Linked DNA regions of Homo sapiens: region 2 is reported to be linked to region 1. The links are microRNA targets in miRTarBase. Many come from high-throughput screens and were not tested one by one. Region 1 holds a microRNA gene; the other region holds the end of a gene's coding sequence.

Evidence for each region. The annotated mature microRNA hsa-miR-4324 reads CCCUGAGACCCUAACCUUAA and lies in region 1 at 6,942-6,961, opposite strand. An mRNA with a match to its seed (bases 2 to 7 or 8) in the 3' UTR can be bound and repressed. Matches are read on the target gene's strand: a 7mer-m8 pairs with bases 2 to 8, a 7mer-A1 pairs with bases 2 to 7 and ends in A, and an 8mer does both.
Region 2: the mRNA of TULP3 is a reported target of hsa-miR-4324. Seed matches in the 3' UTR shown: 7mer-m8 at 2,284-2,290.

What each region holds. Positions count from the first base shown.
Region 1 is chr19:49,301,866-49,317,584 of GRCh38, forward strand. It overlaps MIR4324 (microRNA 4324), which reads right to left and starts at 7,003; the gene lies at 6,932-7,003. SLC6A16 (solute carrier family 6 member 16) reads right to left here. Exons shown (of 12, transcript NM_014037.3): 2 at 9,068-9,546; 3 at 8,488-8,645; 4 at 8,175-8,301; 5 at 7,786-7,961; 6 at 7,436-7,546; 7 at 7,011-7,252. The coding sequence starts at 9,482. RefSeq lists a silencer at 11,726-11,948.
Region 2 is chr12:2,938,530-2,954,037 of GRCh38, forward strand. It overlaps TULP3 (TUB like protein 3), which reads left to right. Exons shown (of 11, transcript NM_003324.5): 11 at 782-2,609. The coding sequence ends at 915. Among named protein-coding and RNA genes, the nearest start is that of TEAD4, 13 kb to the right of the region's middle.

The DNA.
Region 1 (15,719 bases):
CTGAGCCAAGGACCCAGCACAGCTACCATGCATGTGCCTGCACACAGCCATGCCTCCCCATCCCCAGGTTCTAACTCCAGCATCACGTTTGCACCCTCAGCTAGGCCCCGCGGCTGCATGTGCACACACGCCTCCAGCTCAGCCCTGCAACTGCCCACGTACATGCAGATGGACTGACCTCTGTGGCCAGACTGCAGCAGGCCCCTGCAGTTAGGCACAAGCTGTCAGGCCCCACTGCCACATGCATGCCCTTAGTCAACCCCAGCCCCTGCCTCTGACTCCACCCCTTGCCACCATTAATGAGCCTGCAACTAGCCTCTGCTGCCATGCTTGTGCCTACAGCCAGCCTCTGCAGCAGAGTGTGTGCACACCACTGACCCCAGCCTCCACTGCTGCGAGTCCTGGCCCCTAGATGCTAGGCAAGAGGCACAGCTGAGGTCCCAGAAAACTCTGTGGGAGGTTCACAGCCACTGTGGACCTCCCACAGCTGTTGCCACCAAGGACCATGCAGGTATCAACATCACAGCCCCCAGCTGCCTGTGCTAACAAGACTCTGTGTCCCTCCAACCTGGACCCACCACACGCACCCCCACCCACAGTTGGCACTCTGTGCCACTGGACCCAGTGCCAGAGAGCACCACTCTTCTCCCCAAAAAAAGCATTTGAAGTTAATGCTTCTTCAAATGCTTTTCTCAAGACTATAAAAATCATGAAGAATTGGAGAATCATGATAACACCAAAGGAAAACAATAAACTTCCATTAGCTGACTCCAAAGAATAGCAGATCCACTAATTGCCTGACAAAGAATTCACAATAATGGTTCTAAAGAATCTCAGTCAATTATAAAAGAACAGAGAAAACAATTTAACAAAATCAGGAAAACAATAGAACAACGAAAGAAGAGGCTAAACAAAGGCACTGAAAATATGAAAAAGAACCAAACAAACATTTTTGAGCTGAAGAATAACAATAAACAAAAAATACAATAGATGGCTTCAACAGCTGACTAGAAAAGCAGAAGAAAGAATAAGCAAATTCAAAGACATCATTTTAAATCATCCAGTCAGAGGAGAAAAAGAAAAAGAAATGAAGATAACCAAAGAAAGTCTACAATATCTATGGGAGGCCATCAAGAGAACACTTACATAACAAGATTTACAGAGGAGAAGAGAAAAGGACAAAGTTTATCTTTAAAAATAGCTGAATACTTCCCTAATCTGGAGAAAGATACAAACATCCAGGTACAAGAAGTTCAGAGGTCTCTAATAAAATTCAACCCAAAGAAGAGTTCATTGAGACATATTATAAACAAATTATTTAAAACTGAAGACAAAGAATTCTGAAAGCAGAAAGAGAAAAGCATATCACATATAAGGGAGCCCCAGTACAAGTATCGACACATTTCTCAACAGAAATCTTGCAGTCCAGGAGAGAGTAAGATGATATATTCAAAGTGCTGAAAAAAAATCTGACAACCAAGAATACTTTAAAAAGTATGTAGGCCGGGCAGGGTGGCTCATGCCTGTAATACCAGCACTTTGGGAAGCCAAGGCAGGCGGATCATGAGGCCAGGAGTTCAAGACCAGCCTGGCCAGTATAGGGTTTAGTAGAAACCCTGTCTCTACTAAGAATACAAAAATTGGCTGGGCATGGTGGCGCCCACCTGTAGTCCCAGCTACTTGGGAGGCTGAGGCAGGAGGATTGTTTGAACCCGGGAGGCAGAGGTTGCAGTGAGCTGAGATCACGCCACTGCACTCCAGCCTGAGTGACAGTGTGAGACTGTCTCAAAAAAAAAAAAAGAAAAAAGAAAAAAGAAAAAAAGCCACACCATTAGAACTGGTCTCATCTAACGCCCTTCAGTCATTTGATTTATACAAGTGATAAGGTTTGGGGCACAAAACTATTATCATATTACTATTAATTTTACTTTATATTTGCCCTTTTTAAAACTTTGTATCTGTCACTTGTTAAATTTTTACAGAAGTACAACTCCTAACAAAATAATGCTGGCCCAGCCAAACACTTTGAGATGATAACAAAAGACTATGGAACAGACAAAATTGAACTTCATAATGGACCTCAGATAGACTTAGCCTAAGAGATACCCCCTTCAAATGTCCCTTGTTGCTCAAATGTGGCTACAAGAGTTTGACACTGACTCCAAGTCACCCATCATTCCCCTCAATGTGACATGAGACCAGCAACTGGGACAGGCCCATCATGACATTGAGGGACAGGAAAACCCAAATATGAATGATTGATCAGTGATGCTTTTGGAGAAAGATCTTGATTAAAAGAGGAAATGTGAACGTTATCAGAATAAAATGGAGTCACTAATGTTAAGAAAGCCCTAGCAAATTGAGTCAAGGAAGGCCATAAAGAGAGGGTTCTCACACTTGTATGTCTGATTAGAAAAACAACTACAAAAACTATAACCACGCATAAAGGCCACTGCAACCTTACACACACAAAATATTCCTGCAGAAACATCTGCCCAACAAACGCCTATCCAATCTTGGACTGGTGTCACCCTTGTTATCGATCTCTGTAGTCAAGGAAAATTATTTCAAAACAATTATGTTATCCTCCTCATTTTTTTCCTTTAAAAACCTTTGTTGGCTGGGCGTGGTGGCTCAAGCCTGTAATCTCAGCACTTCGGGAGGCTGAGGTGGGCGGATCACCTGAGGTCGAAAGTTCGAGACCAGCCTGACCAACATGGAGAAACCCCGTCTCTACTAAAAATACAAAATTAGCCAGGCGTGGTGGCACATGCCTGTAATCCCAGCTACTCGGGAGGCTAAGGCAGGAGAATCGCTTGAACCTGGGATGTTCAATGCACTCCACCAGGTGAGAGAAAAGAATTTTAATATATACAACTGGAAAATGACTACATATCCAGAACATATAAAGAACTCCATAGAAAAAGATAGATCATCCAATATTTTTTTTAAAATGGGCAAAAATGAACTTGACCACACATTTTGCTTTAAACTATGACAATACAAGTATTTGCACGAGTGAGGTAATGAGAACTTCCATACACACATTTCATATACATACAATTATAAATTGGCACAGATACTATGGAAAGTAATTTGGCATCATCTGTGAAGTTGTAGATATATGTGGTAGATTGAATAAATACAGCCACAATATTTTGGAGCTCCTCCAATTAAGAGGTAAAGTCTATTTTTCACCTTTGGAATCTGGGGTAGCTTTTTTACTTCCTTCAACCAAGAAATGTAGCAGCAATGGAAGCAGTCCTATACTTCGCTTCAAGACACTTTGCTGAGTCTGCCTTTGTGCTCTGTGAGCTACCATGTGAAGAAGACCAAACTAGCCCCATGGAGAGGCCTCATGGAAGAGAGCAGCCCTTGCTGGCCAGCCAACTGACTACAAACAGGAGTGAACCCAGCCACCACCACTTAAAGAAGAGCAGTGCCGGCTGGGTGTGGTGGCTCACGCCTGTAATCCCAGCACTTTGGGAGGCCAAGGTGGGTGGATCACTTGAGGTCAGGAGTTTGAAACCATCCTGGTGAACATGGTGAAACCCCGTCTCTACTAAAAATACAAAAATCAGCTGGGTGTGGTGGTGGGTGCCTGTAATCCCAGCTACTCGGGAAGGTGAGGCGGGAGAATCGCTTGAACCCGGGAGGCGGAGGTTGCAGTGAGCCGAGATTGCACCATTACGCTCCAGCCTGGGTGACAAAAGCAAAGATCTGTCTCAAAAAAAAAAAAAAAAAAGAAGAAGAAGAGCAGTGAGCAGCGCCGTCCCTGCTGGGCTCAGCCCCCAGCCAACCCTCCAGCTAAATGCAGCCATGTCAGTGAACCCATACAAGCCCAGCAGAAGAGCTTTCCAGCCAACCCGCAGAATCATGAGATAAATCATTGTTGTTTTAATCCATTTACTTCCAGAGTGATTTGTTACCCAAGAATAGACAACTATGCCCCAACAATCTAACTCATATCCCAGAAAAATGTGCACATATGTAGTACATCAGGAACATGCATAAGAATGTTTGCAGCAACATTGTTTTAATAGCATAAAACTGGAAAGACTCCAAATGTTATCAATAGTTGAATGGATTTTTAAAAACTGTGGTATATTCATATACTGAAACATTATACAGCATTTTAAAAGCACAGATTAGGCCTGGCGTGGTGGCTCACGTCTGTAATCCCAGCACTTTGGGAGGCCGAGGCGGGCGGATCACGAGGTCAGAAGATCGAGACCGTCCTGGCTAACACGGTGAAACCCTGTCTCTGCTAAAAATACAAAAAATTAGCCAGGCATGGTCGTGGGCACCTGTAATCCCAGCTACTTGGGAGGCTGAGGCAAGAGAATGGTGTGAACCCAGGAGGCAGAGGTTGCAGTGAGCCGAGATCACACCACTGCACTCCAGCCTGGGCAACAGAGCGAGAGTCTGTCTCAAAAAAAAAAAGAAAAAGAAAGAGCACAGATTAAAGTTATACACAATATGGATAAATATTGCAAACATGTTGGATGAGAAAAAGAAAGCACAAAAGTAAGCAAAGAGAATGTATATATGAGGGAACAAATAACTAAACATATTGCTTTATATAAGTGGACAAATTATATTGCTTAGCTATGCATACATAGATGATAGAATATAAAGAAAAACATTAATCACTATCCTTAGTTCTTTGTTTTTTTTTTTTCTTTTTTTTTTTTTTGAGAGAGAGTCTCACTCTGTTGCCCAGGTGGAATGCAGTGGCACAATCTCAGCTCACTGCAGCCTCCACCTCCCAGGTTCAAGCAATTCTCCTGCTTTGGCCTCCTGAGTAGCTGGGACTACAGGTGTGTGCCACCACGCCCGGCTAATTTTTGTATTTGTTAGTAGAGATGGGGTTTCACCATATTGGCCAGGCTGGTCTCAAACTCCTGACCTCGTGATCCATCTGCCTCAGCCTCCCAAAGTGCTGGGATTATAGGCATGAGCCACCGCACCCGGCTTGTTTTTCTTTACATTTGATCATCTATGTATGCGTATCTACTAAGCAATATAGTAACCACTATCCTGACTTTTATGATGGTTACCTCTGGGAGGCAGTAAAGAGATTATGATTAGAAAAAGATACACAGAGAGCATCTAGGGTTATTCTAGTTCTTAATACAGGTGATGTTTACTTCACGGTTCGTTACACAGTGCATTGTTTTATACACTTTTTTTTTTTTTTTGTTAGAGGAAGGGTCTCGCCCAGCTGATTTCAAACTCCTGGGTTCAAGCAATCCTCCCACCTCAGCCTCCCTAAGAGCTGGCATTACAGGCGTGAGCCACTGCTCCCGGCCTTGTTTTATGCATTTTTCCATATGTAGGTAATAGCTCATAATAAAAGGTTTTTTTGAAAATACACAAAAAAACTACCATTACACTCCCACCAGACTGGAAACAATTTAAAAGTCCAACCAAGTTTAATCAAGTGTTGTGCAAAAAGTAGAACAAATGGAAGTCTCACACATCCCTGATGGGAGGGCAATGCATTACGCCACTTTGAAAACCAGACAATATATGATAAAATTGAAGGGGAGCACACCCTACTCAGCAATTCCTTTCCTAACTATATGCTGTCAAGAACTCTTGCACACGCACACATGTATATTCCCAGGCATCTTCTAGAAGAAAATGGTGGTTATTTGTGAGGGTTAGGGTTACTAGGAGAGGTCGGGCGCGGTGGCTCACGCCTGTAATCCCAGCTCTTTGGGAGGCAGAGGCAGGAGGATGGCTTGAGCCCAGGAGTTCAAGACCTGCCTGAGCAATATAGTGGGACCCTGTTCTCAAAAATTTAAATTAAAAAAAAAAAATCTGCTGGGAGAGAGAGGAAGAGGAGGAGGAAGCAAAAAAAAAGAAAAAGAAAAAAAAGAAAAAGAAAAAAAAAAGATTACTGGGAGAAATTCAACTCAGGGTTGCCTCCTCTGGAAGGCCCCATCTGACTAGTCCAGACAGAATTAATGGCTCTGTCTCCTGTCCTCACCCATCACTTCAGTTACCAGTTAGCACAAGTTTTTGGCTGTCTCATTCTCCTTTCCTTCCCCCTCCAAAATTGAAAACTTAATGAAACAAGGACTGTGGTCTGATTCACCTGTCCAAGTCTCTGTTGTATAGAAAGAACACTTCCTAAATGTCTGTCTGATGGATGTTTTTGGAATTAATGCCTAAAAATAAGAAAAATAAGAAACAGGGGTGATCAGACAATCAAGGTTCTAGTACAGAGAATCCTTTTGGAGTTTCTGCTAGATTGACAGAAATCCCCAATTCAGGAGTTAACAGTTAAGAATGGGGGCCTTAGGGCGCGGTGGCTCACGCCTGTAATCGCAGCACTTTGGGAGGCTGAGGCGGGCGGATTATGAGGTCGGGAGATCGAGACCATCCTGGCTAACATGGTGAAACCCTGTCTTTACTAAAAATACAAAAAAATTAGCCGGGCCTGGTGATGGGCACCTGTAGTCCCAGCTACTCAGGAGGCTGAGGCAGGAGAATGGCTTGAACCCAGGAGGCAGAGCTTGCAGTGAGCCAAGTTCGCGCCACTGCACTCCAGCCTGGGTGAAAGAGCGAGACTCCATCTCAAAAAATAAAAATAAAATAAAATAATGGGGGCCTTCTACTTCTCCATTTTTCCAAGGATGGCCTTGGAAGTCTCTGTGTGGTATGGTCTTGGATGGTATTTTGTTGTGTATCTGGGATTAGAGAAGCCTTCAATGTTTGCAATTTTTAGTACATCCCTGTTAGCATATCCACTCTGAGGTGGATAGCTGGCAATCTCTGAGTTTGAAGATTTATTTCTAGGGTGACAAAAGGCTCTGAGAAGGATAATATATGATAGGAGATTCTATTGTCTCCATTTTTAGCTATGGGGAAGGTAGAGGGCTTGCAAGTGCACCCAAGGTTGAAATGTGTGAACATGGGTCTTTGCAGCACCTTTAAGGTTAGGGTCTCAGGGTTTTAAAGTTCCCTGGAGCTGAGACCCTTAACAAAGGGGCCGGCCTTACCTCTCACAGCAGCGATGTGTGATGACTGTCGCCCAGAAGCCCAGGACACAGAAGTTGAAAGATGTGAAAACCAACAAAGTGAGCAGGTTTATCACAGACACGAGAAAGGCATCACTGAGACAGTTGTTGGACTGGGGCATGTAGGAGGCTAAGGAGGCAACGGAGCCAAGGCCTATGCCTGTGTTAGACAAAACTTGACCCCCTGCTAGAGACCACACACTCATATTGTACACATCCGATATCTAAAAGAGAGAAGACAAGCATAAGGGGGTTGTAAAAGAAGAAGCAGAGGACAACTATAATAGAAATGTTGCAGGGAGGAGAGAGGGAGATACAAAAGTAAAGAATGGGGAAAGGAAGCTCTAAGAATAGGCAGCTGTGGTGCCCTACAAGGCCTGACGGGGGAGTGAGGAGATAGATTTCACCTTGGCAACCACCAACTGTTGAAGGCCAAATTTTGCCCCTTCCAGGAGTAGAGTCCGGATGAAGAAACCGACAATGATGAAACAGGGGAGCAGTACCAAGACATAGATTACCTGAATCGAGAGTGGGACATATCAGCAACCGTGTACCAGTAGGGGTCAACCAACAGTTAGGAGGGATCAAAAGTTCTGAGTCAGAAATGAGTAGGAGTTAGAAGAAAGCCTTCAGCAAGAGTCAGGGGCTAGGGGAGTAAAAGCCAAAGGAGTAAGAGATTAGGAGATCAACAAGTAACAAATTGAGGTAAGGGCTAAAGCATCTGAGAATTTCAAGGAATCCAATACTGGTGGCTCACCTTCCCAGTGGACTTGAGCCCATTGATCATGAAAGCACCAACAAGACACCAGCAAAGAAAGAAGGGCAGGACCAGACTGTAGACTGGTGACCCGCCATCCTCGATTCTGTCTGAGGCCTTCAAGGCCTGCTGGTACCAGAAGTATATGGAGGGTGTTGTCCGTTCACATTCAGGATCTGGGGGGACCTGGCTTTAGACATGCCTGCTAGACAAGGTACCCCCTCTTCTTCCTTATCCCCTCCCCCACCTCCCTTTTCTCTTTCCCTCTCCCATTTCTTTTTCCTTCTTCTTCCTCTTCCTTGTCCCTCCCCACTCTCTCCTATTCCAAATTCCCTTCTACTTCTACTTCTCCATTTTTCCCTTCTCCTCTTCTTTCACTTCCTCCTCACCAAAGCCACTAGAGTTCATCGTTAAGGGACATTTCTCCCATGGAACGGGAAACTGGAAGGACTGGCTCATGTAGAAGATGATCCAGGAATTGACCACATTGAAGTACAGGCCGAGGATGAAGCACACCTGGGGGCCAAGGAGGATATGGCTGGGGAGGAAGAGCAGGGACAGGAAAAGGGAGGGGATTTGACAGAGGATTGGGGAACCAAAGGGATCTGACCCATGGAGGTATTCACAGGGCGCATTTCAGGAGGAGGGTTGGGATGGCGGTGGGGTGTAAAAGTCAGGCCTGGGCAGCCATGGGCTCCTCACCATGAAGCTAGAATACCCCACACCACCAATCCAGGGGGCAATGATCTTCCATACACCCATGCCACCCTGACGCATGCTCTGACCAGCTGCCATCTCCAGGAAGAGAAGAGGAACCCCGACCAGGAACAGCATGAAGATGTAGATGGCAGCGAAACTGCCTGTGAAGAAGATTCAGAAGGGACTCTGAGAACCATGTGGCCTTTCAGTGCCTGGACTCCAGGAGCCCAGGAAAACATTCTCCCTACCAGCGACCTCTTCCAGGGCCACAGGCATCAGGGCTCACCCATGTCTACATCCCTCACGGTCCCAAGTGTCCAGTCCTCTGGCCCCCAAATCCTGGAAGACCCAAGTACCTAGTTTCCAGCCCATCTTGGGCCCAGGCCTCCAGCTTTGCCATCCCCATGTTCAGATACCCTGAACCTCTCATGATCCTAAGTGTCCAGGGACCTGGCTCCTATCCTGCTCAGAGCACCAGGTCTTTAGTCTCTACATATCTCAGAAACATTCATGGTTAAAGCCTGGACAGGACTCTGTCCTGATTGCCCCTTGTGGACCCAGGTTTCCTGGTCCCCAGACTTACAGCCTCCACTGTTAAGCCACAGGTAGGCAAAGCGCCAGAGACAAGATGGCTTCATAGAGAAGCCCACCTGAGCCAGAATATACTCAGTTTTGCTGGACCAGAACGGACGGGCAAGGAGGACCTCACTCTCTTTCTTCTCTGTCATCTGCACCTTCTCATGCGTGGGTTTCTGGTTCAGGGCTGAGGCAGTTAACGCCTCCAATACAGAAATTTGCTTGGGCTGACTGGTCCTGGCCTGAGCCTCTGCAACCCGGGCTGCTGAAACTTGGGCCTCTGAGGTCCAAGATGTTGCAGACCGGGTCAATGAACCCTTGTCTTCCCACGTTTGACTTCCTGGGACACTGTCAGAAATCACTGTGCCAGTCCATGAGGTGTTTGCCAGCAAGGATGTCGAAGGCTGGGCCTCTGTCTTCATCTCACACAGACTCTCTGGGGCAGCTCCCGCTTCTGCAAGGGAGGGTTCATCTTCCTGAGGAGACCTGAAGGACACCAAAATCTGTAGATTTTAGATTTTAGAGTCAAGTAACTACTGAGTTACAAAACAATCCTCAACATCTCCTTAAAGCAAATTTTATACCACCACTGACATTTAAAGCACAAAAAAATCTCTTGCATAAGTTTCACTTCTTAGAAATGTTTTCACGTGGTGGCTCACGCTGTAATCCCAGCACTTTGGGAGGCCGAGGAAGATGGATCACCTGAGGTCAGGAGTTCGAGACCAGCCCGGCCAACATGGTGAAACCCCGTCTCTACTAAAAATACAAAAATTAGCTGTGTATAGTGGCAGGCACCTGTAATCCCAGCTACTCGGGAGGCTGAGGCAGGAGAATCGCTTGAACCCAGGAGGCGTAGGTTGCAGTGAGCCGAGATCAGGCCACTGCACTCCAGCTTGGGAGACAGAGTAAGGCTCCATCTCAAAAAAAAAAGAAAAAAAAAAAAGAAATGTTTTCTTGTACAGGATAGGGATAGAGACAGACATACCCAAGAGTCAGGAATCCCTGAAATCAAAGGATTTCTTTTTTTTTTTTCCAGCTACTGGGTTCAAGCGATTCTCCTGACTCAGCCTCCCAAGTAGCTGGGATTACAGGCGCCCACTACCACACCTGACTAATTTTTGTATTTTTAGTAGAGCCAGGTTGGTCTTGAACTCCTGACCTCAAGTGATCCGCCCACCTCAGCCTCCCAAAGTGCTGGAATTACAGGTGTGAGCCACTGCACCCAGCCTGAAATAAAAGGATTTCTAAGAACACTGAAGTACTATTTACAGAGGGCTTCTGAATTTAAAAACAAAACTAAACTAAACTAAACTAATTTAATACTAAATCTGCCTTGTAACCTTAGAAAAGTTACTTTACCTTTCTGAGCTTTCTAATCTGTAAAACACTCAGATCTCTGCTCAAATATAGCCTCACCAGAGATGCCTTCCCTGTCCACCTATCTAAAATAGCAGCTACCTACCCACAACTCTCTTTACTTCATGGCATTTCTCATCTCCTGACTTTATTATCTATTGATTGTTAATTTATTCATTGTCCATCTCTGCCTACTGCTCTATCTCCAGCAAAAGGATGGTGTTCTACCTCACATCTAGGGCTATTCTCCTCCTTATTCTCCAAGTTCCCGCCACTCTGAACTTCTGTTGGCTCTTCAAATACAAGAGAAAAGGCAAGGAGTGTGCTGAAAAAAAAAAAGTTACATGAAAGAGAGGAAGAGAGAGGGGAAACTGGAGTTTTCTTTCAGTGGGGGAAGGAGCATGCTTTCCAAAAGCAGAGGCAGTAGATGGGCTTCAAGGCAGCACTGGCACATTTGGGTGACATGGATAACTGCTTGTGAGACACAGCTTCCAAAGAGCTCTTTGTTACACAAGAAAATGCTTATAATTCAATTACAGGTTAAAAACATAAGACTAAGATACAAATTTCTATCTTTAGTTCTATCTCTACTACATTTAAAAATGCAATGAAAGGCTGAAAGGAAATACATCAATATACAGAAGATGATCAGGCCAGGCGCAGTGGCTCACGCCTGTAATCTGAGCTACTCAGGAGGCTGAGGCAGGAGGATCGTTTGAACACAGGAGGCGGAGGTTGCAATGAGCCGAGATCGCACGACTGCACTCCAGCCTGGGCAACCCTGTCTCAAAAAAAAAAAAAAAAAAAAAAAGACGATGATGGCTACAAATATGTTTATATCCTTATCCCTGCTTTTACATTAAATTTTTTAAAATCTTGTATTACTTTTTTTTCAGACACAGGTTCTCACTCTGTCACCCAGGCTGGAATGCAGTGGCATGATCCACAGTTCACTGCAGCCTTGAACTCCTGGGTTCAAAGGATCCTCTCACCTTATCCTCCAAAGTACCTAGGACTATAGGCATGTGCCACCATACTCAGCTAATTTTTAAAAGTTTTTTTCAAGATGGGAGTCTCACTATGATGCTCAGGCTGGCCTCGAACTCCTGTGCTCAAGTGAGTCTCCGGTCTCAGCCTCCAGAGTAGGTGGCATTACAGGCACAAGCCACCATTCCCCACTCACCTGTATTACTTTAATAATCAATAAAAATACGGCCAGGCATGGTGATTCATGCCTGTAATCCCAGTACTTTGGGAGGCCAAGGCAGGCGGATCACTTGAGGTCAGGAGTTTGAGACCAGCCTGGCCAACATGGCAAAACCCTATCTCTACTAAAAATGCAAAAAAAAAAAAAAAAAAAAAATAGCCGGACATGGTGGCAGGCACCTGTAATCCTAGTTACTAGGGAGGCTGACTTAGGAGAATCACTTGAATCGGGAGGCAGAGGTTACAGTAAGCCAAGATCATACCACTGTACTCCAGCCTAGGTGACAGAGTAAGACTCTGTCTCAAAAAAATAATAATAATCAGCCGGGCACAGTGGCTCACGCCTGTAATCCCAACACTTTGGGAGGCCGAGGTGGGTGGATCACCTGAGGTCAGGAGATCGAGACCATCCTGGCTAACACGGTGAAACCCCATCTCTACTAAAAGTACAAAAAATTAGCCAGGCACAGTGGCGGGCGCCTGTAGTCCCAGCTACTCAGGAGGCTGAAGCAGGAGAATGGCGTGAACCTGGGAAGCGGAGTTTGCAGTGAGCTGAGATCACGCCACTACACTCCAGCCTGGGCAACAGAGTGAGACTCCGTCTCAAAAAAAAAAAAATCATAATCATAATCATAATCATAATCAAGAAAAAATATGTATTGATAAGTGAAAATAAAAAGATCATAATGGACAAAGAAATCCAATTGAAGAAGCTCTCATCAGCGAAATCTGGACAAATCAGAACATCAAAATAAAGAATAGTAACAGATGAGAACCAACAGACTAAAACAAGAATCCATGAATCCACAGGGATACAACTCAGGAAAAGGAAAACCTCTTCCTTATAGTAGAATACAAACTAATAAATGTACAAGGAACGATGAATTAGAAGGTCACTGCTTATCATAAACTAATCAAGTTGTACACATGAAATATGTACAGTTTTTTACTTGTCAATCATCCCTCAATAAATATGTCTTTTTAACAAATCATTGTTTGGAAATTACCAGAGTAATAACTGACACAAGCAAGAATCATCAATGGTTGCTAAAACAAGATGATGAAAATTTGATGGGGACAGGATAATTGCATAGTATTACTGTATCTCCCCACAAGATATTCCCCCCAAAAAAACCCAAGAAACTAGTATCTTTAGAGTATTACACACTACCTAAACCAATAATAGTCACCTGATATCATATAACTCCTGATACAATGCATTAAGAGCACAACATCATTTCTGTGGGATTCCTGCCAAAAACATGTAACAAAACTCCAATCGTGAGGAAACACCAGAAAACAAATCTAAATTGAAGTACATTCTGTAAAATAGCTGGCCTGTGCTCAGTAAAAATGTCACAGTCAATAAAGACAAGGAAAGATGGAAGTGTTGTAAGTCTGAAATTATGTCAAAATTTTGTTAAATTTTTTAAACTTCCAAGCACCTGCCACTCCTACAATTCACCATCAAAACAAAAGGAAGTTTCTTCTAAGATAGCCACATGAACACCAATCTCCAAACTTACCCACAATCTCCCCCTACCCAACAAAAAAAAAAACCAATGATTTTAAAATATTACAAATATGGGGATATCTGCATCATTTCTGAAAAATAGGTTCCATCCTCATGTCAAAAACAGAGAAACTTCTGCTACATAAACAAGAAACAGGACCAAACTGTAATCACTGAGGAGTCAGTTCACATCTCTTTTTCCTGATGAAGTGGTTCAGTGTTTCAGGAAGTAAGTAAATACTTTCCCAGCAACTTGTGGGAAATAAAAACAATCACTTGCCAAAGACCTTCTGCTCCAGTGAACCAACAGCTTCCAGAAGCTGTATGCCAGAGAATGCAACAGCAGGTGGGCCACTCCTCTGTTATTGGATTTATTGGAGTTATTGGTGGGTTGATGGGCGTCTCCCTGAGACAAATGATGCTTCCATAACATTAAGAGAGAAGCAGAAAATCATGCAGGGAAGAAAAGGCTGAAGAAAAAATTAGGTACAAAAATCCAGCCTTTGGGGCTGGTCATGGTGGCTCATGCCTGTAATCCCAGCCCTTTGGGAGGCTGAGGCAGGAGATGTTTTATGTAAGCTTCGTGGTAACTACAAAGCAAAAAACTCAGTAGAGATGATTCAAAGCATACCACTAGAGAAAATCAATATAATTAGTCACATTGATATAATAAAGAAGAAAAATATTATCATCTCAAGAGATATAGGAAAAACATACAATACAATGATGATTTACGGAGAAAAACTTTTAGCAAACCAGGAATAATTTCCCTAACCTGATAAATGGTGTCTCTCAAAAAAAAAAGATTATACTTAATAGTGAACATATGCTTAAACATAGGCACATATTTAATAATGAAGTGAAGAAAGCTTGCCTTTTGAAATCAAGAACAATCAATGAAACCAGCTATCAGCACTTCCTTCCCATTGCATTAAATATTTTAGACAACACAGGAAAGCAAGGGGAATAAAAGACAAAGATTAAACAAAACTCACTATTCACAGATGATATATCTATGTGGAAGATCCAGAATACTACAGATAAATTATTTAAATTAATAAGATAATTTAGCAAGATTGTTGGATGCAAACAGCAATAAATGAAAATTATTTATATGTCTATGCTTGCAATACATAATTAGAAAATAAAATTTTAAAATAATAATGCCACTTATAAAATAATTTTTTAAATATAGAGTAAAATCCTGGGAAGGTAATGGCAATAACAGCAACATTGTTTTAAAATCTTCCCAAATACTCACATGAAAACAAGTAGTTCTACTAGATTGCAAGCCCAAAATCCATGGATAATATTTACAATATCAAGATAAACCCCAAAAGACAAGTCTATGAGAACAAACCACAAGAGCCACAGACCTGTATAGAATCAGCATCTGTGTGGGAGGAAACAAAGGAAGCAAGAGAGCATCTGACAGACCTGGGGATGGGGGACAGGGAAACCAGTCTCTCAAAATAATCAACAGGTACTCACCAGAAATCATGGGAAGGCTATTAGAGAACAGCAGCTAAAACTAGAAGATGTCTTGCCTAATCCAATAACAGTTGAGTGCATGGAGTCAACAATAGAAACTGAAGGGACCAGGGCAGACTAGATTCTATGAACTCTTAAAATTAACCAACCAGGGATCTTTTCCAACCCAGAGGCCACAATGAGGAGAAATTCCTGTGAGTAAAGCCAAATTGAGCAATACAAGAACAAGAATGATGAAGGATAGGCCAGACACAGTGGCTCATGCCTGTAATCCTAGTACTTTGGGAGGCCAAGGCAGGAGGATCACTTGAGGCCAGGAATTCAAGATAAGCCTTGACAATGCAGTGAAAACCCATCTCTACCAAAAAAAAAAAAAAAAAATTAAAATTAAAATTAGCCAGGCATAGTGGGACACGCCAGTGGTCCCAGCTATTTGGGAGGCTAAGTGGAGAGGATCGCTTGAGCCCAGGAGTTCAAGGTTGCAGTGGGCTATGATCACACCACTGAACTCCAGCCTGAGCAACAGAGTGGGACCTCATTCTCTAAAAAAATAAAATAAAATAGGCCAGGTGCAGTGGTTCATGCCCGTAATCCCAGCACTTTGAGAAGCCAAGGCAGGAGGATCACTTGAAGTCAGGAGTTTAAGACAAGCCTGGCCAATATGGTGAAACCCCATCTCTACCAAAAAATACAAAAATTAGCCAGGCATGGTGGGACACACCTGTAGCCCCAGCTACTCGGAAGGCTGAGGTGAGATAATTACTTGAATCCAGGAGGGGGAGGTTGCAGTGAGCCAAGATTGCACCACTGCACTCCAGCTTGGGCAACAGAGTAAGACCCTATCTCAAAAATAATAACAATAATAATAAAATAAAATTAATTAATTAAAAGATAATTTTAAGAAAACATAGAAATGAAGGATATACAGGATCCAGATAAAAATGGGGAGAAGAAATTTCCACTTTTGACCATGAAAGCAAAACAGTGTCTGGAGTTACCTCCACAAAAACACTACAAAACTGTACAAATAGGCCAGGCGCCGTGGCTCACGCCTGTAATCCTAGCACTTTAGGAGGCCGAGGCGGGCGGA
Region 2 (15,508 bases), not on the chromosome of region 1:
TCACGTCTGTAATCCCAGCACTTTGGGAGGCCGAGGTGGGCAGATCGCTTGAGACCAGCCTGGGCAACATGGTGTGAAACCCCATCTCTACAAAAAATAGAAAAATTAGCTGGGCGTGGTGGCAGGCACTTGTAGTCCCAGCTACCCGGGAGGCTGAGGTGGGAGCATCACTTGAGCCAGGAGGTCGAGGCTGCAGTGAGCTGAGATTGCATCACTGCTCTCCAGCCTGGGTGACAGCAAGAACCTGTCTCAGAAAAAAATAAAAAATCAGAGAAGTCATAGAGTAGGTTGTTTGGGAAACAAAGGCAAATGACCCCAATAAAGGTTCCTGGCAGCTCTAGCCTGCGGAGTTTATGACATTCCCAGCAAGCTGCTCTCTATTCTACAGAAACCTGGTGATTAACTGGCCTATTTGGAGGATTCTTTCTGTATCATAAATAGGATCCCAGCACTTTGGGAGGCCGAGGCAGGAGAATCACTTGAGCCTAGGTGTTTGAGACCAGCTTGAGCAACATAGTGAGACCCTATCTTCACAAAAAGTAAAATATTAGCCAGGCGTGGTGGCGCTTGCCTGTAGTCCCAGCTACTCAGGAGGCTGAGGTGGGAGGATCACTTGAGCCTGGGACGGGAGGTCAAGGCTGCAGTGAGCTGTGGTCATTCCACTAGGCTCCAGCCAGGGCGACAGAGCAAAACCCCATCTAAGAAAAGGAAGAAAAAGAAAAAGATTTCCCTGAGTGCAACCACATTATATTCTAACATGTTGATTTCTTTCTGTTTCTAGCTGATTATATAGTCATGCAGTTTGGACGTGTGGCAGATGACGTGTTCACACTGGATTACAACTACCCACTTTGTGCAGTACAGGCCTTTGGCATCGGTCTTTCTAGCTTTGACAGTAAGCTGGCGTGTGAATGAGAGAACAGTCAGGCAGGGAGCCCTTCTCCCCACAGAGCTTTCAGGAGCAGACAGTGGCCTCCCCTTCCCCTCCCTGCCCCAGGACTTAAAGAGCAATAGTTTGCCCCTTTTGGAATGATCTCTGAATATATAAAACACACACACAAAGAGCAATAGTTTGCCCCTTTTGGAACGACCCCTGAATATATAAAACACACACACGAAGAGCAATAGTTTGCCCCTTTTGGAACGACCCCTGAATATATAAAACACACACGAAGAGCAATAGTTTGCCCCTTTTGGAACGACCCCTGAATATATAAAACACACACACGAAGAGCAATAGTTTGCCCCTTTTGGAACGACCCCTGAATATATAAAACACACACACACCCCGCGCACTCTCACTCCTTTTCCAGGTTTCATAGACTTGGTGAGGGATCACAGCTTAGCATGGGTGAGAGATGATTTAAAGCACAGGGAGATTCTTGTCACATTGGGGTCTCCAAAGCTAGAATGGGATTTCATGTGCTTGGAAACTTGCAGTAGAATCAGGGACTGACATCGCAGTTCCTCTCCTCTCTTCATTCCCTCACAGCAGATTGGCCGGCACCAATCTTAGTCAAGAGTGGCTGTGATCACATTTGTGATCAATTATGTGAGAATTTTATATAATTGTCTTCATTTCAATTAAGGCTGAAAGCATAAACTCTAGAGGTGACTCAGTCAGGACTGACAGTAATGTGATAATTGCCTTCATTTTCAACCCAGGAGTGCCTCTCACAGCTATATGACTACGGATCCATTAGTGAGGAGCGACACACACACCTGTAGGCATCCTGTGCAAACACTTTGTCATTATCAAGAGAGATGGCAGTATTGACCATTTAGTTTAGTTAAAAAAAAAAAAAAAAAGGTGGCAGGAGAGGCTTTGGGGAGGATCAGCCAGCAGACATGAGCACTGCTGGCCCGTGTGGCAGAGCTGTGGACTTTCTTCTCGGCTCCCTCAACCCTGGCTCAGGCACAGAAGGTGTTTTGCTACGTTTTTTTGATTATTACACCCCTCCACGTATTATGTGACTCTTACACCAGTTCACCCTTCCCAGAATGTATCCAAACCTTGAGAATGCAGGAGCTCTGTGAGCTCCACCGTCAGCACCATTCAGCTGCATCCCTTGTGCACAGAACTGTTTGCCAGCGTTGGGTGGGACACCCGTGGCGGCTGCTCCCTCAGACCTCCCTTCTGTGGACTGACCTCTCACCTCCGCCTGTTGTTCCTGCACCACATCAGATAAGCATGTGAAGGAGGGCCAACTGGCAGCTGCGGGACCCTTGGCTTGTCCCCCACCGACAAGTCCCACCTGCTGGGTGAGGACGAGACTGTTTCCATCTCAGGCATGTATCCCACCAAGTGCCTCCCTCACAGCCATGCCCAGAAGCCTCACACCTCGTCACCACCACCACCCCCCACCCCATCCTGAGGCACTGCCTGGCAGATAACCCTGGTTGGCCACAGAAGCTATTAATACACGACAGCATGTGGGGAAGGACTTATGGTGGGCCAGGTGGACCTCATCCTGCTTCTTCCTCCCTCTGGTTTAAAGAGATATATAAACTAATTTCACATAATTTGTGTGTGCAGGTGATTGGTTTTTACATAAGTCCTATTTATACCTTTTATATGTTACAGAAATAAAAGTTAATTTATATAAAAATGTGTCACTGCCTTTGCAAGTCCTATGCCTCAGGAAGTTCCTACTGTCATGTTATATAATCATAATTGTCATCTTGGGCCACGTGCAGTGGCTCACGCCTATAATCCCAGCACTTTGGGAGGTTGTGGCAGGCGGATCACCTGAGGCCAGGAGTTGGAGACCAGCCTGGCCAACACGGCAAAACCCTATCTCTACTAAAAATACCAAAATTAGCTAGGTGTGGTGGTGCATGTCTGTAATCCCAGCTACTCAGGAGGCTGAGGCATGAGAATCACTTGAACCTGGGAGGCTGAGGTTGCAGTGAGCAGAGATCACACCATTGCACGCCACCCTGGGCCACAGAGTGAGACCCTCGCCTCAAAAAAAGAAAAAAAAATGTTTTGGTAACACATCAGTTCTGTAAAACCAGGTGATTACTAACAAACTTCTCATCCTGATGTAGAGCAGGAATCTGCAGACTAAGAAGGCTGTGTTCCGGAGGCTACCTAGACACACTATACACATGATAGCCAGGGGCATCTGGACAGAGGACGGGACCGAGAGCTGAGCTTAGCAAGGCCACAGAGGGTAGAGTGTACATTCTTTGCATGCCTGCCCAGGTCCGCTTCCCAGGTTTGTTCTTGTTGGCATTGTTTACTGGTTCAGCAGCAACACAAATGAACTATCTCATAGACCCCATCGCTTGCCTCTGAATGTTAACGTTTTGTTTGTTTTTTGAGACGAAGTCTTGCTTTATCACCCAGGCTGGAGTGCAGTGGGCATGACCTCGGCTCACTGCAACCTCTGCCTCCCAGGTTTCAGCAATTCTCCTGCCTCAGCCTCCTGAGAAGCTGGGACTACAGGCGTGCGCTACTACACCCAGCTAATTTTTGTATTTTAAGTGGAGAAGAGGTTTCACCATGTTGGCCACGCTGGTCTCGCCTTGGCCTCCAAAAGTGCCAGGATTACAGGCATGAGCCACTGCACCCGGCCTTTTTTTTTTTTTTTTTTTTTTTTTTTTGAGACGGAGTCTGGCTCTGTTGCCAGGCTGGAGTGGAGTGGGGTGATATTGGCTTACTGCAACCTCTGCCTCCTGGGTTCAAGCAACTCTCCTGCCTCAGCCTCCCGAGTAGGTGGGACTACAGGCGTAAGCCACTGCGCTCGGCACCCCCCCCTCCTTTTTTTTTTTTGAGACAGGGTCTCCTGTTGTCCAGGCTGCAGTGCAGTAGTGTGATCTTGGCTTACCACAGCCTCAACTTCCTGAGCTCAAGGGATCCTCCTACCTCAGCCTCCTGAGTAGCTGGAACTATAGGCATGTGCCACCAAGACTGGCTAATTTTTTGTATTAAAGTACAGACAGGGCTTCACTGTGTTTTTCAGGCTCGAACTCCTGGGCTGAAGTGAGCCTCCCACCTCGGCCTTACAAAGTGCTAGAATTACAGGCACGAAATACCATGCCCGGCCTTCACATTTTTAAGCTGCCCTATGTTCAGAAGTTGAAAAAAAATGCTGGGTGTGGTGACTTATGCCCAGCACTTTGGGAGGCCGAGATGGGAGGATCATTTGAGGTCAGGAGTTCCAGACCAGTCTGGCCAACATGGCAAAACCCTGTCTCTACTAAAAATACAAAAATTACCTGGGTGTGGTGGCGGGTGCCTGTAATCTCAGTTGCTTGGGAGGCTGAGGCAGGAGAATCACTTGGACTGGGAAGGCAGAGTTTGCAGTGAGCCAAGATTGTGCCACTGCACTCCAGCCTGAATGCGACTCTGTCTCAAAAAAAAAAAAAGTGTCCACAAAGCTTTCCTAGGCTTTCTGGCTCTTATCAGCATCACAGTGATGAACACATGGAAAGAAGCAAGAAGAGCCTAAAAATCAGGACAAGAGCTGGAGTCGATTCTTACAACTTGATTTTTCCTTTTTTATTTTTTTAGTCTTCCACATGCACAACATGTATTTTCTTTTTCATATGATTCTTTTTGGCTAAGGTGCATGGGTGGCCAGTTTTTCTGTTTTTTTTTTTTTTTTTGAGACAGGGTCTGGCTCTGTTGCCCAGGCTGGAGTGCAGTGGTGTGATCTTGGCTCACTGCAACCTCTGCCTCCTGGGCTCAAACCATCCTCCCACCTCAGTCTCCTGAGTAGCTGGGACTACAGGCATCCACCACCCCCAACTAATTTTTTAATTTTTGATAGAGACAGGGTTTCACCATGTTGCCCAGATTGGTATTGAACTCCTGGGCTCAAGCGATCCTCTCCCCTTGGCCTCCCAGAGTGTTGGGATTACAGGCATGAGCCACCGTGCCTGGCCCAAATAGATTCTTTGTGACACAGTTTTGTACACTAGTGATCAGGGACATACTGGTGGGCATTGACATGAAAGATTTCAGCAAGTGTCAATTACAAGTCTAAAAACAGGCCTGCAAAAGGCTCTTTTTGATCAGTTTAATAGATCATAGAAGAAATGAACTAGCATCAATTCATTTCCTTGAGATCAGCATTGTAAGTGCAGAAATAAAGTGATGGTTCGACTAAGGCAAAATCTTCCTGGGTTCTGACCCTATTTCTGCCAATGATTTGCCATGTGCCTCCTTTATAGATTGAGAGACTTTGAACTACGTGCCCTTTTACATTCTTTTTTTTTCTTTTTCTTTTTTTTTTTTTTTTGAGACAGAGTCTTGCTCTGTTGCCCAGGCTGGAGTGCGGTAGTGGGATCTCGGCTCACTGCAAGCTCCGCCTCCCGGGTTTACGCCACTCTCCTGCTTCAGCTTCCCGAGTAGCTGGGACTACAGGCGCCTGCCACCACGCCTGGCTAATTTTTTGTATTTTTAGTAGAGACGGGGTTTCACCGTGTTAGCCAGGATGGTTTCGATCTCCTGACCTCATGATCCGCCCGCCTCGGCCTCCCAAAGTGCTGGGATTACAGGCGTGAGCCACCACGCCCGGCTACATTCTTGAATTACATGTTTCTCCCCACTCATGCTGACAACACTCTGGCATTCCCCTGTTTTGAGCTGAACTCACTGGTTACCCCTGGACAGCTTCATGTTCATGGCTCATGTTCATTAGCTCTGTTCATGGCTAAGGACGGCTAGCCTGAGAGGTGACACAGAGTTCAGGGAAAGCACAGATTGCCTCAGCGAAGGCACCATGGAGAGGAGACCGGAATTGTGGAAGAAACAGGATCGTGCACTGAGAACTGTCCTCTTTATTCTACCAAGTACGATTTATTAGCCAAGTTGACATTTGTCGATTTGGTTATAGTAACTCTTACAAGCAATTCTTAAGACACACACACAGCTTGCTCCTGAACTCCAGCATGTTGCAAGCTGCGTTTTTCCTCGGCCTCCAGCTCCTGCCCGGGAACTGTCTGCACGTCTAACACCTGCTTCTCTTCAGTCCACAGCTCTCTCAGCCTGGCCCACGCAGGCCCCAGCCAGGGGCATGCCAAGGACTTGGCAGTTTCTGTGCCACCTCCTGAGACACGTTTCCTGACCACTGGCATAGTGGATCATTTTGCCTCCTTTCCTGCTTACGTCTCCTCGTTATCACTGTCGATGGATATGCTTTAAAAGTCTCACAGTCTTTTTTATCAACCAATAGACTCCCCTCATCCACTAAAAGCTAAGGCTGCCACAAATGAAGGGGTGCAGTGAGAACGGCAGATGGTTCCATGGCGCCACCCACTGTCCAGGAATGCATGTTGCAGGTGCGTTAAACGGGCAGACCCCGCACAGGTGAGGAAGTCACCAGGCGAAAACAGCAAGCCGACCACATGACCATGCAGTTACCAAGCACCTCGTGTTAGACCATGGCTCTCTTCTGAAAGCCTGAGAACACTAATATTTCTGGAGTTTAGAAACTAGTTAAGGTGCCAGGCGCGGTGGCTCACGCCGAGGCGGGAGGATGACGAGGTCAGGAGATCGAGACCATCCTGGCTAACACGGTGAAACCCCGTCTCTACTGAAAATACAAAAAATTAGCTGGGCACGGTGGTGGGCGCCTGTAGTCCCAGCTACTCGGGAGACTGAGGCAGGAGAATGGCGTGAACCCGGGAGGCGGAGCTTGCAGTGAGCCGAGATGGCGCCACTGCAGTCCGGCCTGGGCAACAGAGCAAGACTCTGTCTCAAAAAAAAAAAAAAAAAAAAAAAAAAAAGAAAGAAACGAGTTAAGGTATTCTAGGTAAAATGCCCAGGATCTGGCCGGCACAGAATAAACACTAAGTATAGTGGCAGATATCTATATTATCTTTTTTTACTTTGAGGCAGGGTCTCACTCTGTTACCCAGGCTGGAGTGCAGTGGCATGATCTCACTGCAGTCTTGACCTTCCCAGGCTCAAGTGATCCTTCCATTTCAGCCTCCGGAGCTGCTGGGATACAGGCATACAGGCGTGAGCCACCACGCCCAGCTAATTTTTTTTTTTTTTTGTATTCTGTAGAGATGGGGTTTCATCATGTTGCCCAGGCTGGTCTTGAACTCCTGGGCTCAAGCAATCCTCTCACCTCAGCCTCCCAAAGTGCTGGGGTTACAGGTGTGAGCCATTGTGCCTGGCCATAATTTTTATTAATGTTCTTTAAAAATAAAACAATGAGCTCGAATGGTGGCTCGCACCTGTAATCTCAGCACTTTGGAAGGCTAAGGTGGGAGGATTGCTGGAGCCCAGAAGTTCCAGACCAGCCTGGGCAACATAGGGAGACCCCATCTCTACAAAAATAAATTAGCCAAGCACTGTGGCACGAGCCTGTAGTCCCAGCTACTCGGGAGGCTGAGGTGGGAGGATGGCTTGAGCCCAGGAGGCTGCAGTGAGCCAAGATTGTACCACTGCACTCCAGCTGGGCAAAAGAGTGAAACCCTGTCTCTAAGAAAAAACTTAACAGAACAATTATCTTCTTAGCCACGCACTTATAGAGAATGGCTTATACATGTTTATAAAGCAAATTTAGATGGTTTTTCAGAGACAATAGGAGAGGACAGAAGCACAGCACGGTTTAATCAGGTTACTCCACACACCAGTGCTAGCCCAGCCCTGATCCTACCTCCCTTTCCTCACTTTGTACCCATCTCTCTTGTTTTTACTTGAAGTAACTGCCTGTACAAATATTAGCCCTGATGTTGTTGGAAATTTTTGAAGTATTTCAAATACAAAATGGGCCTCCAAGATTCTTTATAGATGGGCCTTGTCTTTTGGTCCGTCAGGCCTGAGCCCCAACACGGCTTTGGCCATGACCAAAGCGGGGTAAAGCTGGGGGCTTAGGTGGGGGCAGGCTTTTTCCTGGTCTATCACCAGCCTTTACTATACCTCTTTGGTTTAACATTGGGGCTCTCAAGCCACAGGGTTTAACATCTAGTTAAGCACTTTCTACCTAGATTCTGCCCCTTGTCATGAATCTTAAGTGTTTCAAGAATAATTATGCAAGGCCGGGCGCGGTGGCTCACGCCTGTAATCCCAGCACTTTGGGAGGCCGAGGCGGGCGGATCACGAGGTCAGGAGATCGAGATCATCCTGGCTAACACGGTGAAAGCCCGTCTCTACTAAAAAATACAAAAAATTAGCCAGGTGTGGTGGCGGGTGCCTGTAGTCCCAGCTACTCGGGAGGCTGAGGCAGGAGAATGGCCTGAACCCAGGAGGCGGAGCTTGCAGTGAGCCAAGATCGCGCCACTGCACTCCAGCCTGGGCAACAGAGCGAGACTCTGTCTCAAAAAAAAAAAAAAAAAAGAATAATTATCCAGCAGTTCTCTTTCTTCCGTAGTTTGGGAGTAGGAAGATTAGGAAGGAAGAATGGTTTGAGGAGAAAGGAGGGTGACAGGCAGAAGAGGGCTAGGAAGTAGAGCAGCATTTTTAAAGTGTGTCTAGGCCGGGTGTGGGCGCGGTGGCTCACACCTGTAATCCCAGCACTTTGGGAGGCCGAGGCGGGCAGATCACTTGAGGTCAGGAGTTTGAGAGTAGCCTGGCCAAAATGGTGAAACCCCATCTCTACTAAAAATACAAAAATTAGCCAGATATGGTGGCGCACGCCTGTAATCCCAGCTACTCAGGAGGCTGAGGCACAAGAATCACTTGAACCCGGGAGGCGGAGGTTGTAGTGAGCCAAGATTGCACCACTGCACTCCAGCCTGGGTGACAGAGTGAGACTGTCTCAACAACAGCAACAAAAAAGGTGGGTCTAAGTTCCATTTCCAAAGTACTGATGCATACTTAGGACAAACCATACCAGGCTAAAGTAGAAAGTGACCTCGAAAAAGGTTTCCTGATTTTTGCCTTTGGTCAGTCGTATGTTGTTCTATATCAGCTATTTTTTTTTTCTTTTTTCTTTTTTTGAGTCAGAGTCTCGCTCTGTCGCCCAGGCTGGAGGGCAATGGCGCAATCTCGGCTCACTACAAGCTCCGCCTCCCGGGTTCACGCCATTCTCCTGCCTCAGCCTCTTGAGTAGCTGGGACTACAGGCGCCTGCCACCACGCCCGGCTAATTTTTTTTGTATTTTTTTTAGCAGAGACGGGGTTTCACCGTGTTAGCCAGGATGGTCTCGATCTCCTGACCTCGTGATCCACCTGCCTCAGCCTCCCAAAGTGCTGGGATTACAGTCGTGAGCCACCGCGCCCGGCGTATATCAGCTATTCAGAGAGATAGAGGTACATAAATGTAACCTTTGGGCCAGGTGTGGTGGCACACACCAGTAGTATTTCCAGCTACTTGGGAGGCTGAAGTAGGAGGATTGCTTACGTGTGCTAGGATTGCACCACCGCACTCCAGTCTAGGGATAGAGCAAGACCCTGTCTCAAAAAAACAAAAAAAACAAAAAACAAACACACACACACATGATTAATGTACAAATTGCCTATCTACAGGGGACTAGTTAAAAACACTAAGGTAAGGCTGGACACAGCTGGCTTATGCCTGTAATTAATCCCAGTACTCTAGGAGACCCAGGCAGGAGTATTGCTTGAGCCCAGGACTTTGAGACCAGCCTGGGCAATATATCAAGACCCTGTTTCTACAAAAAAACAAATAAACAAACAAAAAAAAACCACACAACACTTTTTTTTTAAATCAGCCAGGTATGGTGACACATGCCTGTAGTCCCAGCTACTCAGGAGGCTGAAATGGGAGGATCACTTGAGCTGGGGAGATCGAGACTGCAGTGAGCCATGATCACACCACCGCACTCTAGTCTGGGCAACAGAGAGAGACTCTGCCTCAAAAAAAAAAAAAAAAGAGGAAAAAGCCCACTAAGGTACTTCCCACAATGGAATACTGTGGAGAATCAACAAGTATGAGGAAGACTGTATTGATTGATGTGGAAATGTCTGCAGGATCCATTCCGTGAGAAGTAAGCTAAAGAACCACGTATACAGTATGCTTCCTTTTGTGCACAAAGGGTGGGAAATTGCAAGCCCATTATTATTTTTGCATAAACACTGAAAAACTGGAAACTAAAAAGTGGGTTAACTATAGGAGCAGGACAGGGCACAGGAAGGCAAGACAGATGTGGGAGGAATCCTTTTCTTTTTTTTTTTCTTGAGACAGTCTTACTTTGTCACCCAGGGTGGAGTGCAGTGGCACAATCACGACTCACTGCAGCCTTGACCTCCTGGGTCCCAGTGATCCTCCTGCCTCAGCCTCCTGTGTAGATGGGACCAGAGGCACATGCTACCATGCCCCAGTAATTTTTGTTGTTGTTGTAGAGATGGGGTCTCACTATGTTGCCTAGGCTGGTTTCCAACTCCTGGACTCAAGTGATCCTCCCACCTCAGCTTCCCAAAGTGCTGGGATTCTAGGCATCCACCATCATGCCTGGCCAGGAGGAATCATTAAAAAAGAAGTTTTAAACCATATGAAATTACTACTATTAAATAATTTATTATTATTATTATTATTATTTTTGAGGCAGAGTCTCACTCTGTGGCCCAGGATGGAGAGCAGTGGTGTGATCTCGGCTCACTACAACCTCTGCCTCCCAGGTTCAAGCGATTCTCCTGTCTCAGTCCCCTGAGTAGCTGGGACTACAGGCATGTGCCACCACGCATGGCTAATTTTGTATTTTTAGTAGAGATGAGGTTTCACCATGTTGGCCAGGCTGGTCTTGAACTCCTGACCTCAAATAATCCACCCTCCTTGGCCTCCCAAAGTGCTGGGATTATAGGTGTGAGCTATCACACCAGGCCAATGAATTTTTGAGAATGGTTTCGTTTTGCTGACCAGACTGAGTGCAATGGTGCAATCATGTCTCACTGCAGCCTCAACCTCCTGGGTTGAAGCGATCCTTCCTCCTCAGCCTCCCAAGTAGCTGGGACAACAGGTGTGTCCCATTAGCCACCACACCAGGCTAATGTCATCTTAATCCTCTTCTTTCTCATTCTTCACACTTAGTAACTCCCATAAGTTTACACGTTTACACTTGCTTTCTCCCACAGTCCCACATTTTTTTGCAAGCTCTGCAAGTGTTATCCAGTTGTTGCTGGGCATCTCCCGCTGAGATGGTGCACAGCTGTGCTGGCCAACATGTGGCTATTTACATTCAAATTCATTCAAATTCAGTTCTTCAGTCAGGCTAGCTACATTTCAAGTCCTCAGGCTAGTGACTACCACAGTGGACAGTGCAGATGGAGAACATTTTTCTTTCTCTCTTTTTTTTTTTTTTTGAGATGGAGTCTCGCTCTGTTGCCCAAGCTGGAGTGCAGAGGTGCGATCTTGGCTCACTGTAACCTTCAGCTCCCCAGTTCAAGCGATTCTCCTGCCTCAGCCTCCCGAGTAACTGGGATTACAGCTGTGTACCACCACGCCCGGGTGATTTTTGTATTTTTAGTAGAGACAGGTTTTTGCCATGTTGGCCAGGCTGGTCTCGAACCTCTGACCTCACGTGATTCACCTGCCTCAGTCTCTCAATGTGCCGGGATTACAGGCATGAGCCACGGTGCCCAACTGTTTTGTTGTTGTTTTGAGACACAGTGTCATTCTGTTGTCCAGGCTGGAGTGCCGTGACGTGATCTCAGCTCACTTCAACCTTTGCCTCCCGGGTTTAAGGACTTCTCGTGCCTCAGCCACCCAAGTAGCTGGGATTACAGGCATGCTCCACTGTGCCCGGCCGAGAACATTTTCATCATCACAGAAAGCTGTGTTGGAAAATGTTAGTTGGTCTACAGAAATCTCAACTTCAGGTTCCCAAGCTAACTATCTTCTTAGCAATTCTGCTCCTGTGTTCCACTCGTAGCAGCCTGAGAGGCAGACATCATGACTCCTCTGTTTTCCACACATTCAATAAATGTGGAGTGAAAAAATGAGTGATGAGGAACCGAGGCTCACTTAGTAGGTGGCCAAGCTGGAATTTAAACTCTGACTGTTTAACGGCCCGACAAGGTCATCGCACACAACTTAGTGCACTCTCATTTTCAGAATATTTTATCAAACAGGATTACTGAAGATGAAGATTTTAGCTGAGCGAGATTGGAGAAAGCCTTTCCTTCCTTTTGACTTTTTTTCAGGAAGCTCCTGGATAGCTGAGGATAAGACCCCGTAGGAACTTCACCCTGCTTGAGAATTGTGCAGAGAAGGCTTCCACCTCTGTGCAATGGAAACCTGTTGTTTGTTTCAGTTTGGAAATATAAATACACTGAATTAGTCAGCCTGGACTGCCATAACAAAATCCACAGACAACAGAAATGCATTTCTTACAATTCTGGAGGCTGGAAGTGGAGGATGCTGGTGCTGGCAGGTGTGGTCTCTTCTGAGACCTTTCTCCTTTTCTCCCCCTGTGTCCTCACATGGTCATCCCTTGGTCTGAGTGTTCTGTGTCCTCATCTCTTTCATGAGGACACCAGTTACACTAGATTATGGACCACCCTAATGACCTCTTGCTAATTTAGTCACCTCTTTAAAGGCCTTATCTCCAACACAGTCACGTTCTGAGGTACTAGGGGTTTGGACCTCAACACACAAATTTGGAGGGAAACAATTTAGCCCACAGCATATACTGTTCCCTAGACAGTGGACCTAGGGTCTGTTCTCTTTCACATTTCTTTTTTTTTTTTTTTTGAGACAGGGTCTTGCTCTATTGCCAGGTGGGAGTGCAGTGATACAATCATGGCTCACTGCAGCCTCGACCTCCCAGACTCAAGCAATTTTCCCACCTCAGCCTCCCAAGTAGCTGGGACTACAGGCACATGCCACGACACCCGGATAATTTTGTTTTTATTTTTTGTAGGGATGGAGTCTCCCTATGTTGCGTGGGCTGGTCTCGAACTCCTCGCCTCAAGTGATCCTCCTGCTGCAGCTTCCCAAAATGTTGGGATTACAGTTGTGAGCCATTCCGCCTGGCCTACATTTGCCTTTCATGAAGACATAATAGAATGAATAGTATGCTTATCAAATTATTGACTACTTTTATTCTATAGACAGTTGGGGAAAACAAAAACAAAAACAAAAAAAAAACCTTTGATAAAGATCCGTTTTGCCTAGGTGAGAGGATAGCTTGAGCCCGGGAGGTCCAGGCTGCAGTGAACCATGATCCTGCCACTGCACTCCAGCCTGGGTGACAGAGCGAGACTCAGTCTCAAAACAAAACAAGGCCAGGCGCAGTGGCTCACGCCTGTAATCCCAGCACTCTGGGAGGCCGAGGTGGGCAGATCATGAGGTCAAGAGATCGAGACCATCCTGGCCAACATGGTGAAACCCGTCTCTACTAAAAATACAAAATTTAGCTGGGCGTGATGGCAAGAGCCTGTAATCCCAGAACTTTGGGAGGCCAAGGCAGGTGGATCACCTGAGGTCAGGAGTTTTGAGACCAGCCTGGCCAACATGGCAAAACCTCATCTCTACTAAAAATACAAAAATTAGCTGGGCATGGTGGCGAGAGCCTGTAATCCCAGCTACTAGAGAGGCTGAGGCAGGGGAATCGCTTGAACTCGGGAGGTGGAGGTTGCAGTGAGCCGAGATCGCGCCACTGTACTGCAGCCTGGGAGACAGAGCTCTCGCTCAAAGAAACAAAACAGGCTGGACGCGGTGGCTTACGCCTGGAATCCCAGCACTTTGGGAGGCCGAGACGGGCAGATCACAAGGTCAGGAGATCGAGACCATCCTGGCTAACATGGTGAAACCCGTCTGTACTAAAAATACAAAAAATTAGCTGGGTGTGGTGGCGGGCGCCTGTAATCCCAGCTACTTGGGAGGCTGAGGCAGGAGAATCGCTTGAACCCGGAAGGTGGAGGTTGTAGTCAGCCAAGATCGCGCCACTGCACTCCAGCCTGGGTGACAGAGCGAGACTCCGTCTCAAAAAAAAAAAAAGAAAAAAAAAGAAACAAAACAAAAAACAGGAAATGGTCTGTTTTGTCCTTCAAAGCACAAAATGAAGTTCAGCTGATGTCAAGTGAACATTCTCTTAAGGAAAAAAGTAAATAAAAGTATAGGATGGGCCGGGTGCAGTGGCTCACACCTGTAATCCTAGGACTTTGGGAGGCCAAGGTGGGCGGATCACTTGAGGCCAGGAGTTCAAGACCAGCCTGGCCAAGATGGCAAAACCCCATCTCTACTAAAAAAAAAAAAAACATAAATAAATAAATAAATATAGGATGGAGAGGTTAAAAAAGAAAAAGCACCTGAGTCACAGCTGACCAGCAGGAGTCATTGCATAATACTTTCCAAGGTATGGGGAGCAGCTTTGGGGAAATCTCCAAAGCAAGATGTGGCCCGGCACAGTGGCTCACACCAGTAATCCCAACACTTAGGAGGTCCAAGGCAGGAAGATGGCTTGAGGCCAGGAGTTTGAGACCAGCTTGAGCATATAGGGCAATCTTGTCTTTACAAAGAAAAATTTTTTTAATTAGTCAAGTGAAGTGGTGCACACCTGTAGTCTCAGCTACTTGGGAGGCTAGGGTGGGAGAATCACTTGAGCCCAGGGAGTGAAGACTGCCGTGAGCCCTGATTGCACCACTGCACTGCAGCCTGGGCAACAGAGCGAGACACTGTCTCAAAAATAAAAAAAAAAAGAAAAATATTTGCCTTTCACCTAAAAGCTAGGAAACAATCTCTCTTTACTCTGTCAGTTTCCTATTAGGCCATTCAATCCAGCTGTCAGTTGTTTGTTTGGTGGGAATGGTTTGATTTACTGGGGAAAAAAGTTTCTAGAGTTGTAAACTGGCAGTCAGCAATAGTTGAAACAAATATGTAGGATAATGAGTGGATCGATAAGAAGTCTAGAAGACTTACATGGTGGCGTTTACTCAGAACCTATTCATTGAGTTCTTCTAATCCTATATAATCTCTTTGCTACCACCACCAGCTTTATTGAGGTATAGTTAACAAATAAAAATTGTATATATTTATGGTGTACAATGTGCATTTTTTTTTTTTGAGACGAAGTCTCGCTCTGTCGCCCAGGCTGGAGGGCAGTGGCACAATCTCGGCTCACTCTGCCTCCTGGGTTCCATGGTTGGCCACGCTAGTCTCGAACTCCTGACCTCAGATGATCTGCCCACCTTGGCCTCCCAAAGTGCTAGGATTACAGACTTGAGCCACCGTGCCTGGCCACATTTTTTTTTTTTGAGACGGAGCCTTGCTCTGTCGCCAGGGCTGTAGTGCAGTGGTGTGATCTCGGCTCACTGCAACCTCCGCCTCCCAGGTTCAAGCGATTCTCCTGCCTCAGCCTTCCAAGTACCTGGGAATACAGGTGCGTGCCACCACGCCCAGCTAATTTTTGTATTTTTAGTAGAGACGGGGTTTCACCATGTTGGCCAGGATGGTCTTGATCTCTTACCTCGTCATCCGCCTGCCTCAGCCTCCCAAAGTGCTAGGATTACAGGCGTGTGCCACCACGCCCAGCCTTTTTTTTTTTTTTTTGAGATGGAGTCTCACTCTGTTGCCCAGGCCGGACTGCAGTGGTGCCATCTCGGCTCACTGCAAGCTCCGCCTCCCGGGTTCACACCATTCTCCTGT